3 separate regions of the Homo sapiens genome follow, and all the other regions are linked to region 1. Evidence: fine-mapped expression QTL. A gene starts in region 1. Each other region holds a variant in brackets. All regions are shown on one strand. Distances are between the middles of the regions.

The links. PIP is the estimated chance that this variant, and not a neighbour inherited with it, causes the effect.
Region 2: its variant is the best candidate, but not a certain one, in a credible set for the expression of CTXN2-AS1 in whole blood (INTERVAL, PIP 0.62).
Region 3: its variant is the best candidate, but not a certain one, in a credible set for the expression of CTXN2-AS1 in whole blood (INTERVAL, PIP 0.61).

Annotation. Positions count from the first base shown.
Region 1 is chr15:48,189,280-48,193,522 of GRCh38, reverse strand. It overlaps CTXN2-AS1 (CTXN2 antisense RNA 1), which reads left to right and starts at 1,814. Exons shown (of 3, transcript NR_184082.1): 1 at 1,814-1,938; 2 at 2,462-2,590; 3 at 4,014-4,243. It overlaps CTXN2 (cortexin 2), which reads right to left and starts at 1,858. Exons shown (of 2, transcript NM_001145668.2): 1 at 1,670-1,858. RefSeq lists an enhancer at 1,351-1,854.
Region 2 is chr15:48,256,710-48,260,952 of GRCh38, reverse strand. SLC12A1 (solute carrier family 12 member 1) reads right to left here. Exons shown (of 27, transcript NM_000338.3): 17 at 1,642-1,753. Among named protein-coding and RNA genes, the nearest start is that of SLC12A1, 53 kb to the right of the region's middle. The variant G/T (reference allele first, on the strand shown) is at 1,832.
Region 3 is chr15:48,535,531-48,539,773 of GRCh38, reverse strand. It overlaps FBN1 (fibrillin 1), which reads left to right. Exons shown (of 66, transcript NM_000138.5): 7 at 1,966-2,163. Among named protein-coding and RNA genes, the nearest start is that of FBN1, 110 kb to the left of the region's middle. The variant C/T (reference allele first, on the strand shown) is at 1,828.

The DNA.
Region 1 (4,243 bases):
AGATTAAGTTACAAAACCATATATTAAAAAATCCATATAAAAATAGTTAAGAAAAAATGAACTTTCAAAAATAAGTAGAATGTAAAATTGGGTAGTGGTAAAAGTTATTTGAAATATATTATACCACAAAATTGGGTAAAATAAACAATGCACAGTTTAAATATCAGGATCAATATATATAATGATTAAAATATTTAAGTGTCTTTTAATACTACTGATGCAAATGATAAAATATTGTCTTGAGCCATATTCACTGGAATAAATGGTTAGGTACTTTGGCAATGAGTAACTTGGTTGAAAGTACATTTCCTTCATGGCAATTGTCAGGCACCAAGATTTCTAAGTACTGATGAGTCATAAGATTGGGCCAGGGGTGTTCCTGTAGATATCAAATAGCCCAAATCTCATGAAGTTGCTTTGTAATTGGCAACTAGTAAGTAAAAAACAAAGTCTTCCTATGATCAGTACTTACAAATCATATCTCCGTAAGCAGTTAAGCAAAGATGATAGTATTTTTATACCTGATATGCAGCCTTTCATATTCATGAATATTGTTAGTGATGTTTATGTCTTCTGTGAAATAACCTTACTAGAGATATAAAAATATACCTTTCAGATAAAATCATTTAATCATGCAACAATGCACAATTACAGAAACTAATGTTAAAAAGTGTGTACCCATTAAAGAAAGAACCTCCTGTGTTTTATTTTAATCAACAGGTTTTTCCTCTTGTTTATTTCTCTAGTAATGGTATTCCAAACAATAAACCTGAAATAATAACTATTAGAGTGGAATATGATGTTCTAGGTAGAAAGTATTTTAGCACTGGTCATTAGATATAATAATCTCTACTGCTAATGATGACATTCATAATTTCATGAAATAAGACATATAAGAAAACCCAAGCTTAAAAAATAATGAACCATTCCATACATATACACACTCCACACAAAATATAAAGATTATATCCCAGTAAAAGAGAGAAAAGAAGCATTATTGAAACCACATCTGCACAGAGGTAGTTAATCATTAAGAATCGAATGTGTTGGAATAAAAGGAAAACCTTAAATTACAAACCTAGATGTCTTCATCATGGTGAAATGCATAAATTTCAGGGCTTTCCAGAGATCCCAGACCTTAGGATCTGCCAGAATCCACCCCTAAACCCTCAGATTTCAACCTTAAGAGAATTTCTCTCTTAAGAGAATCTTTGGATGGCTCAAGGACTCTGACACTCAATCCTTCCAACGCACTGGGAAACCTGGTCTGAAAATTCTCCAGATATCTCATTAAAGAAACCTAGACCATCATCATCATTCTGCGTTGTTTGTTTCCAGGTCTCTTTCTACGCACTAAACCGAAGAAGCATGGAAACTTCCTACAAAACATTATGGGAGAAGCATCAGCAATCTGCACGTACACAACACTTTTCCCCCGCCTGGCAGCCGCATCAGCAGTGGCGCTAGCATTAGGGGTGCTGTTTCTCCTTTAGAATTTGAACTTATCAGACCTACTGGCTCCTCCACCCACCGCCCCACCCCCCGCTCTTTTGCTTCAGAAATACAAGAGAATGAGGACATGCTTCTCATCTGGACCTGCATTTGGAACGCTGTCAGTTAATGCGGAGGGAAGGGGGAGAAAGTTACTTCGCAGACAGCGATGTCTCACCTTCCATGCTTGTTGCCATGGAGATGAAGTCCAGCCAGTAGACTTAAGTGTTGGCACGTTTGTCTGTGTTCGCTGATCGGTTCAGTAACAAATGTAGAAGGCGTGTTCTGGAACCTGCGTAGAGTCACAGGGCCCTGGTTAGCGCTTTCCTGGCCTAGAAGTGTAAATGTCTGTGTCTGTTGGTGAGACAGAGGACGTGGGCGCCCGCCGAAGTACGTGTGCGCGCGCGCGTTTGCAGGAAAACGTGCATGGATTTCTTCGGTGTGGCAGTGTGTAAATATTTGCGCTCGCGTGTGTCTGTGGCAGCATCTGTGTGTGTATGTGAGACTGAAAGGAGGTGGGAGATGAGGAGGGGAAGGGAATCAGCTCCAGCAGCAACAGGCTCTATTCTTCAGTTCTGCTAAAAGAAAGAGGAAGAGAGGAAGAAAAAAATAGACACTCCTTTTTTTTCTCACGACACACCCTGAAGGTTAGCAATTAGATTTCATCATTATCTTTGTTTACTAAGGCAGTGAGGGTTTAATTGATTTACTGCTGAAATCCTTGTTTTGCTCTCTTTGCTGCATTCCTGGCTGTGCTGCGGGCATTTTGCTGTGCTTTGGTGACAGCCGTTTTCAGTAGAACAGTAGGCACTAAATTCTTACACGTTTCTTCTTATCCGGTAAGGAAAATTCAGGAGTGAAAGGTGTATTGATTTAACTGGAGACTGAATGTGTCGTTTGGAGTTCTTTTCCTCTACTCTTTCCCTTCTCTCTTCCACACAAACACAACTGAATCCCCTTCCGTTTCTAGGAGAAGGCGCCTAGGCGCTGTCCGTAGTGCTGAAATGGTGCGTGGTGAGACCTGTCTCCCCAACACAAGCTAGAAGACAACAAAATAGCAGCCAGGAAACGCTCTGATAAAGCTCTAGATAGCTGCCAGGTACGTTTTCTAAACAGTGTTGAATATGTAGATTCTAAACCTAACCGACGTTGAAAGCAAGGTAAAGCAAAGCAAAGCAAAGGAAAACAAAAAAACAACAACAGAAACCTTGCTCTTTATCCTTATTTTAGGGGTCTGGCCGTTTCAACAAACTCAGTTACAGGGTTCCCAATTCTATTTATGTTTTGCGACTCTATCCAGAACCTACAAGTTGCAAGCACTTTTAGATTCCCTACAATCTTAATTATTCACCTTATAACTACTGGACTGTGAGTCGTTGGGGGAAATGTAGATACAGAATTGGGACACTCATCTAAAGAAAATACTTTGAAAACGTAATGTAACTGCAACTAGATTCAATAACAAAGTGAAGACAAACTTCATGATTATTTAGAGTATTTACTGATTTAGGAAATGTAATGGTCTTACAAAAAAATGGGCAATGTATAACTGAGAGTTCATATAAGACCACATTTTTTAAAAGTTGTTTTTTGATTTTAAACTATTAAGATGTCCTAAAATGTAGGTGAACTAACTGCCCTCTATGAAAGACTGAAAGACATATCTTATTCTAGGGACATTTCCATGGCCATGGTTTTATTGACCCTTTTTAAACTTGCCAAGGGCCACATTCTTTATTAGCACTCTGGGCTGGAACAGTGCTTCTTGAAGTATAACATGCATATGAATCTTCAACGATCTTGCTAAAATGCAGACTCTGATTCAGTAGGTGTGGGGTTGGGTCTCAGATTGTGCTTTTCTGACAATTTCCTAGGTGATGCCAGAGATTACTAGTTTTGGGACCAATTAAAGTAGCAAGATGCAGCCAGGAGTGGTGGCTTATGCCTGTAATCCCAGCACTTTGGGAGGCCGAGGTAGGAGGATCACCTGAGGTGAGGAGTTTGAGACCAGCCTGACCAACATGGCGAAACCCTGTCTCTACTAAAAATACAAAAATTAGCTGGGTGTGGTGGTGGGTGCCTGTAATCCCAGCTACTCAGGAGACTGAGGCAGGAGAATCACTTGAACTCAGGAGGCGGACATTGCAGTGAGCTGAGATTGTGCCACTGCACTCCAGCCTGGGTGACAGAGCGAGACATTGTCTCAAAATAAATAAATAAATAAAAATAAAGTAGCAAGATGCTAGAGATATTGAATTCTGGCAATGCAGTCAGTCATAGATTGTGGGAAAGGAGATCATTTTATTCCATCTATTATTCTATGTATGTTTCCAAACTGTTACAAAAATAATTTATTCAAAATTAGTTCAGAGACTAATCATGTAAACATTTTGTCTGTACAGTATGAACAATTTTTTATGAATTTGATTCCTTTGATTTTGATTTTGACATTGTCTGGACCAGTGGTATAGTTGAGTCTGTATTTCCATACTATGATCTATAACCATTCATTCTCTTTGCAGGCCGAGCTCAAGGGAGCAGAACTAAGTTACATGATTCTGCTGCGGATGTATAAGCACCACTCCAATAATTTATTATCACGGTTGGAGACTTTGACTTGTCACTTTATGACTTGAAATATGGCTCCATGGTAAATGCCCATAAAGCTGATTTTTAAAATCTGGATATTACAGTTCTAATTCTCACTTAGTTTAAAAGGTAGAATAGGCTTCTTGTTTCATAGATCATTTGT
Region 2 (4,243 bases), 67 kb before region 1:
TGCATTAAGTTATATTGTTTGAATTACTGTCATATAAGCACTGAGAGGAAAGAGAATATGAACAACTGCTTCATAAAGCATTTAGAATATTGCCAAGTGTAAAGAAATGCTTAAGTGCTGATCATGATGACATGTGGTAAATTAGCCCCCAGCATCATGGCAGAGTTGACTGGTTCTAAAGTCACCTGACTTCCTGACAGCCCTATTCCTTGGCAGGTATTGGAGATTTAAGTAGTGGTGCTGGATTTCAATAGTACTCCCAAGGATGCAAGTGTGCTAAGGCTTTCTCCTCAAGGCGTGACACTTAGCACACTTGTGTGGCCTGGACTGATATCTTGGCTCTGCCACTTTCTTGTCATGTGATCCAGTGCAATAATTTAATTTTCCTGAATCTCACTTTCCCAATCACTAAAATGGGAACAGGGCTACTTTTCTTTCCTGCTTCACTAGGCTATTGTGTGGCTCCAATAAGAAAAACTGTAGAAAAATGCTTTGAAGAAAAATGGTTTGAAGAATACGTAAGTACTTAAGTACTATAAAAATGCATTGATAGCTGAGAATTTTCAGTGGTGTGTGTGTGTGTGTGTGTGTGTGTGTGTGTGTGATAGAGAGAGAGAGAGAGAGGGAATACAAGTAGAGGTGGGCTAGTGTGGAGGACTTAGACTTTATTATTATTATTATTATTATTATTATGGAGTCTTGCTCTGTAGCCCAGGCTGGAATGCAGTGGTGTGATCTTGACTCACCATAACCTCCACCTCCCAGGTTCAAGCGATTCTCCTGCCTCAGCCTCCTGAGTAGCTGGGATTACAGGCATGCATCACCATGCCTGGCTAATTTTTGTATTTTTAGTAGAGAGAGGGTTTTGCCATGATCGTCATGGTCTCGAACTCCTGACCTCAGGTGATCCGCCCACCTTGGCCTCCCAAAGCGCTGGGATTACAGGCATGAGCCACTGCACCCTTTGGCTTATTATTTTATTATTATTTTAATGCTTTCTCCACACTTGAGAAATTGGTCAACAGTTATGATTAAATTACTAGCACCAGTTTTGAATACCTCTTAGGAAACTCACCAATAAGTTATTATTAGTCTACCATGTATTTCCTGGGCAAAAATAATTCATTTAGCTCTGAATGTTTATCTAAGGCATGAAAAACTTGGTTTAGTTTTTAGAGTATCTGCAATGTCATCAAACTTATCCAAATATTTAATCTAAATTCTATGTGCTGTCATTTAAGGCCATTATGTCTGGTTCTTTCCTCATCAGTTAATCTCTATAATAGTGCTCTATTTGGCTCATTCCATCTTTTTATATTTCTGTAGACAGTTATCACCCCAAATGCCTTCATTTTATTTCTGAGCCAGCTATCTTTTTCTTGACTCAAAGGCCATCATTTGGAAATATTTGTCACTTTTAGTTGGTCTCTTATGAAATCTGAAACGCTTTACATCTACCTGTTTAAATTCAGGATCACGGGCTCTTGCTTGTCCTTGCTCTATGAATCAAGGTAGAGGGCTCTCCTATAAACTGTTTTTTTGCTATTTTCCTGTCACTGCATGTACCTTTTCTCCTCACCCAAAATAATCCAAGATAAGCAGGGAGGAAAAAGGACTTCCCTGGGGTGAAGTGGCTCTTACCACAAAGACTTCACAGCAGATGCAAAGGCCACTGTTCTTGGTAAAGGCGTGAGTTATGTCCAGGAGAGCAGGTCTTGTCATGGGTCCCCCTGTTAAGACAATGCACTGGGGCCTGGAAGTAAAAAAAAGATGTGAAAATGAGCCCCTGCAAGAAGCCTGTAACCTTAGAACCATTCCAGTGGGATGACAG[G/T]TACAGAGGCTTGGAAAAATGGGGCAACCTCTCCCCTATCTATTTTTTGGGTTTCGCACCAGTATTCTTGAATCATCCTGCCTGTCTTGACATGTTTGTGTTCTCAGTTCAGTTAGTCCTAGCAAAAGTGTGAAGTAAGGAAAAAGTGGTCTTATGGTCCTGATATGGTTTGGCTGTGTTCCCACCCAAATCTCATCTTGAATTGTAGCTTCCATAATTGCCACGTATTGTGAGAGGGACCCAGTGGGAGGTAATTGAATCATGGGGACAGATGTTCCCATGCTGTTCTCATTCACCCTCCACCATGATTGTGAGGCCTCCTCAGCCATGTGGAACTGTGAGTCTATTAAATCTCTTTTTCTTGAAAAATTACCCAGTCTTGGATATTTCTTCATAGCATCATGAAAATGGACTAAAATTCGTACTGGTAGAGTGGGGTGCTGCTGTAAAGATACCCAAAAATGTGAAAGTGACTTTGGAACTGGATATAACAGGCAGAGGCTGGAACAGTTTGGAGGGCCCAGAAGAAGACAGAAAAATGTGGGAAAGTTTGGAACTTCCTAGAGACTTGGAGGGCTCAGAAGAAAGGAAGATGCGTAAAAGTTTGGAATTTCATAGAGACTCATTGAATGGCTTTGACCAAAATGCTGATAGTGATATGGACAATAAAGTTCAGGCTGAGGTGGTCTCAGATGGAGATGAAGAACTCCTTGGGAACTGGAGTAAAGGTCACTCTTTTTTTTTTTTTTTTTTTTTTTTTTGAGACGGAGTCTCGCTCTGTCGCCCAGGCTGGAGTGCAGTGGCGGGATCTCGGCTCACTGCAAGCTCCGCCTCCCGGGTTCACGCCATTCTCCTGCCTCAGCCTCCCAAGTAGCTGGGACTACAGGCGCCCGCCACTACGCCCGGCTAATTTTTTGTATTTTTAGTAGAGACGGGGTTTCACCGTTTTAGCCGGGATGGTCTCGATCTCCTGACCTCGTGATCCGCCCGCCTCGGCCTCCCAAAGTGCTGGGATTACAGGCGTGAGCCACCGCGCCCGGCCGTAAAGGTCACTCTTGCTGTGCAAAGAGACTGGCAGCATTTTGCCTCTGCCCTAGAAATCTGTGAAACTTTGAACTTGAGAGAGATGATTTAGGTATCTGGCAGAAGAAATTTCTAAGCAGCAAAGTGTTCAAGAGGAAACAGAGCAAAAAAGTTGGAAAAATTTGCAGTAGAAAGGAAAAAACCATGTTCTGGGGAGAAATTTAAGCTGGCTGCAGAAATTTGCATAGGTAACAAGGAGGCAAATGCTAATCACCAAGACAATGGGGAAAATATTTCCGGGGCATGTCAGAGAACTTCACAGCAGCCTCTCTCATCACAGGCCTGGAGGCCCAGGAGGGAAATATCGTTTCCTGGGCATGGTCCAGGGTCCCCCTGCTGTGTGCAGCCTAGGGACTTGGTGCCCTTTGTCCTAGCTGCTCCAGCCATGGCTAAAAGGGGCCAAGGTATAGCTTGGATGGTGGCTTCAGAAGGTGAAAGTCCCAAGCCTTGGCAGCTTTCATGTGGTGTTGGTCCTGTGGGTGCATAGAAGACTAGAATTGAGGTTTGAGAACCTCCTCCTAGATGTCAGAGGATGTATGGAAATGCCTGGATATCCAGGCAGAGGTGTGCTGCAGGGGCAGAGCACTCATGGAGAACCTCTGCTAGGGTAGTGCAGAAGGAAAATGTGGGGTCGGAGCCCCCAGACAGACTCCCCACTGGGGCACTGCCTAGTAGATCTGTAAGAAGAGGACCACAGTCCTCTAGACCCCAGAATGGTAGATCCACCGACAGTTTGCACTGTGCACCTGGAAAAGCTGCAGACACTCAACACCAGCCAGTGAAAGCAGCCAGGAGGGAGGCTGTACCCTGCAAAGCCACAGGGGCAGAGCTGCTCAACACCTTGGGAACCCACCTTGCATCAACATGACCTGGATATGAGACATGGAGTCAAAGGAGATCATTTTGGAGCTTTAAGATTTTACTGCCCCACTGGATTTCGGACTTGCATGGGGCATGTAGCCCCTTTGTTTTGGCCAATTTCTCCCATTTGGAACAGGTGTATTTACCAAATGCCTGTATCCCCATTGTATCTAGGAAGTAACTAACTTGCTTTTGATTTTACAGACTCATAGGCAGAAGGGACATGCCTTGTCTCAGATGAGACTTTGGACTGTGGACTTTTGAGTTAATGCTGAAATGAGTTAAGACTTTGGGGGACTGTTGGGAAGGCATGATTAGTTTTGAAATGTGAGGACAAGAAATTTGGGGGGGGGGGCCAGGGATGGAATGATATGGTTTGGGCTGTGTCCCCACCTAAATCTCATCTTGAATTATAGTTCCCATAATCCCCATGTGTTGTGGGAGGGACCCAGTGGGAGGTAATTGAAT
Region 3 (4,243 bases), 350 kb before region 1:
GTCAGGAGACAGGGCTGGAAAGGTGGGTGGGGCTATATCATGCAGAGAAGAGGGACACAGAGGTCTTAGGCTTGTCTTTTGGCATGGTGAGTCTGGTTGCATGTAGATATCACTCACACAATTTTTGACCTGTTTGCATATCACCTGTACTAGTATTTAATATTTTTAAAAAATTGAATTAAAAGGTTTTTCAATTCATCATCCTCATAGCAGACATAACTGTGAAATCATGAGTCTGATATATTTATGCTGTTTCATAATACACATTAAAATTAATATGTGACTACTAAAATCTAAAATTATCTTGCATCCTGTGAGTGGGACATAACACTGGCATGGAGGGAGGGAGCTGGGGAACTGGGGACTCGGCATTTGGACCATCCTGTCTGTCTCTCCAGTGCTGCCATAGCTTGGATATGGTAGTCTTCTTTACATATATGACTGGCATGGAGTTTTGTTTTTGGAATTCTTCAGAAGGTTGATCTTACAGCATGGGCATCAGAGCAGTGCTGTTTCTGCAACACCATTGAACAGAGGTGGTTCATTGCAGATAGCAGAGGAGAGGGAGGAAGAGCACGTAGTGATGGGGAGCAGATGGAGTTGAAATTCCAAGGGAGGGGTTGGAGTGGAGATGCAAGAAAAAGAAAGCAAGAGAGAACACACAGGATAGAGGGATGCCAGCAGATAAGATTCAGCTATTGCCAAAACATTGTTACGATCCAGAATGTTGACTCTTGCTGGTACTGTAATGAAAAGTTGTCCTTTTTTCCTTAGTAAATAGCATGTCTGCGATGTCCTATGAGCTACTTAAAGAAAGAAGAAAATAATGAAAGCATCCCAGTAGTTTCATTAGCACAGCCAGTGATTTTCATAAAACTGTTGCGTTCACAGGTGAAAGGAACTTACTGGGGTCATTGAGTCCATTTTTAGACTCACAGGGATCACTGCACCTAAACACTTCTGAAAATGACCTGGAAGCATGCAAATGTTGGTTTGTGGATAGAAGCCCATGAGTCTTACCCCAGCCCAGCCTCCCTTGTCTGTCAAGGTCATTGTAGAACCACGGAAATGGATATTATGGCCCTGATTTCTCTCACAAGGGGACAACCTGGGTTTGGTCCTCTGTGCTCACTACGTCTTTATCTTTCTTATTTGTTGTTGGCTCTCTCTCTGTAGGAAAAAAAAAAAAGAGGCAGATCTTATAGCTGGTGGTAGACTGCTCTGATTGGAAATTCTCTTGTGGACTTAGCTTATCCCTGTTTTGCTTTAAGATGGTCCTTTTGCCTAGGGGTTACAATGATTTCAGACCAGTGTCCTCACTCTTTATATTAAAACCTAATGTGTTTTGCATGGACAAAATTTTAAATTCTTGTTTGTTGGTTTGCTTGTTTTGTATTTGAAATAAGATGACCCCAACTCAAAAGAAACAGATAACCATTTCTTTTATTGAAGGAACTCCCAGGAAGAAGGTGCCATGACTTGCCTCACTGCAAGCTTCAAAATTCTTTGCTTTCTCAGCCCTAAATAACAATAGACTGGAAGCTCTGTGAGGTCAGGGATTTGGCCTCTTTTAGTCACTGAAGCATCTGTATCAGGCATAGGAGCTGATTCAGTGTAGGCACTGATATATTTTCTTAAGTAATGAGTGGATAATAATATTACCATGTTACATTTGTATAGCAATTCACAGTTGTAAAGAGTTTTCCATTAGCTCGCCTGATCCTCACAATGCCGTTTTCAAAGTGGGTAACAACTGATGTTTTCATCCCTATTTTGTAGGTTAGGAAATCGGGTTCAGAAGTAGAATGGTCTATCCAAGGCCTTACA[C/T]AGGGACAGTGATGCATGATTCTGTCCCTGAAATTCATTTCTCAATTTGGAGTCAAGCAAGATGGAGCACAGCTGTTCCTCTGCATGATGGTTCCTGCTTTTCTGGATTTTCATCAGATTTTTATTCTTTATTTTCAGATTACAGGACAGGCCCATGTTTTACTGTGATCAGCAACCAGATGTGCCAGGGACAACTCAGCGGGATTGTCTGCACAAAAACGCTCTGCTGTGCCACAGTCGGCCGAGCCTGGGGCCACCCCTGTGAGATGTGTCCTGCCCAGCCTCACCCCTGCCGCCGTGGCTTCATTCCAAATATCCGCACGGGAGCTTGTCAAGGTAAACCCGGGCTGATGGAATTATTAATGGATTAATCTTATTTGCTCTGGAGAGCCATTCTCCAATGAAGTTGAAGAGAATGGAAAAGTAGTGTCAGCTACATAACTTCACAATTTCGCTGACTGCATGATATCCAACTAAGGCATTAGGAACGTGGCTCTCGAGAGAGCAGCTGAAGTCTTACTGAATGTTTTCTTGCCAACCATTCCCCCTTTCTGACCCCAGAGGTGTTTGTATGTACCTCTGACTCCAGGGGTGGTGTGATTCTGTTTACAGCGATGCAGTGCATTATGGCAGTGCTGTGTAGAAACACAAAGCAAGGTTTGTGAACAAGGTAGTTTATGTTTTTCTTAATTTTTTTTCTTCATTTGAAACTGTTGAGTTCCTCTCTCATGGGTTGTGCTTAATTGACCTGAAGAAAATTGTTTCTCTCGACATTTTGCATGCTACATTTTGCATTTTTTTACAAGTCCAAAATAAATTAGGATTTGTTTCACAGTTTTAAATATCCCCAGATGTCGCCTGCTAGCTGCTTCTCCTGCCTCCCGTAGAAGCCCTTACTCTGTTTTTGGCTTTTACTCCTGTTCTTCCAGCTGTACAAATTCTTTTATTGTCTGGATGTCTGGCAGGAAACAGGAGGAAGTGAACAGAGGCAGCTCCACACTAAACTGATGGGATTGAAAACTCTCAGCCTGTATCTGTTTCCTTTAGACAGCCTCAGGACTTTTTATAGCAAGTTGCAATATTTTCAGAAACTTCAGGATATGCTTTTCTGAGGCAAATAGATAATACTTTGGCGTTGTTTTGTATGTTAATTCTAAGGGTAATGTGCAATAAAACAGAACTTGAGCTTAGTCACACAGTTTTGTGGGTCTCCATTACATTCCACTTCAATAAATTCCACTTCTGATATTGTCATTCCTGGCCTTCAGCTCCCATGTACAACATACAGCTCCTTTGGATGCCCTTAAATGTATCCCTCTGAATGTCAGGAGAAGAAATAAGTCACCTTGAAACTCTAAAATTATCAAGGGATGGATTGTAGTATTTTACAAAAGTTTAGTTGTTTTTTGGTGCCTTCTTATTTTTCCCGTTTTTAGAAAATCCCAGTGAGTTTTGAAGAATTTGTTCATCTTGGGATTACAAAGTTAGCTAATACCCATGAACTTGTTGACAGTGACCAGAGAGCTAGACTTTTAACTGCCTCAGCTGCCCATCAGTGACCCATTGTCAGAGGTTAGGGTGCTAATGGAATTGGGGGGGTGGGGATAATGAACTGCCTTCTCTTTAGCTTTGCTATTCGTTTCATAAATCTGGATCTTTCCAGCATTTGCTTCCTGTTTCTTTCTAACTCTGCTATTCAACATCCAAGAAAAAAAATGTTTTTTATAAGAAAAGTTTTGAAAACCCATTGAATCACAATGGCAGTTATATTGCTATTTTGAGAGTGAAATTCTTCATGTTTGGTTGTTGTTGTTGTTGTTGTTGTTGTTTTTTCTAAGAGATTCTGCCACCAGGTTGTGGCTCTTGCTCCTTGCTGGTGTTTCCAGTCCTTGGGTCAGATGTGAGGGGCTGTGGGCAAATGGGTTCATAAAGGAGCTTATTCTGTCTTCAGACCTGGAGTATACAGCCAGTGGAGAATTGCCTTGTCTATATTTTCTGTTGGCCAGAAATCATGATCAACAAGACAGCTAGTTCTGCCTATATGTAAAAATCTTGATTTTCAAAAACATTTTAAAAAATACATTCAACACATCAAGAGAATGGAAAATTCTGGTCTAAGACAAAACTGAAATTGGCTAGAAAACATAATTTAATGATTTTCCACATATAATCATGTATCTGTGGGTTAAGATATTTCATTTAAAACAGTAAGTGATACTTTTATAATAAACTAAATTGTTGTTTCTTTAATATCCCTTTTACTGCATGCTGACTTTTCTCAAGAACACAGGTTGAGATCTTATAAACAGCAATCACTTTTTTCTTTACTCAATGAAGAGTGAAACTAAAGAGCACATTAAGCTTCCAGGTTTCAAAAAGAATACATTAGACTGTTTGCTTGGGGATTCTTTATTAA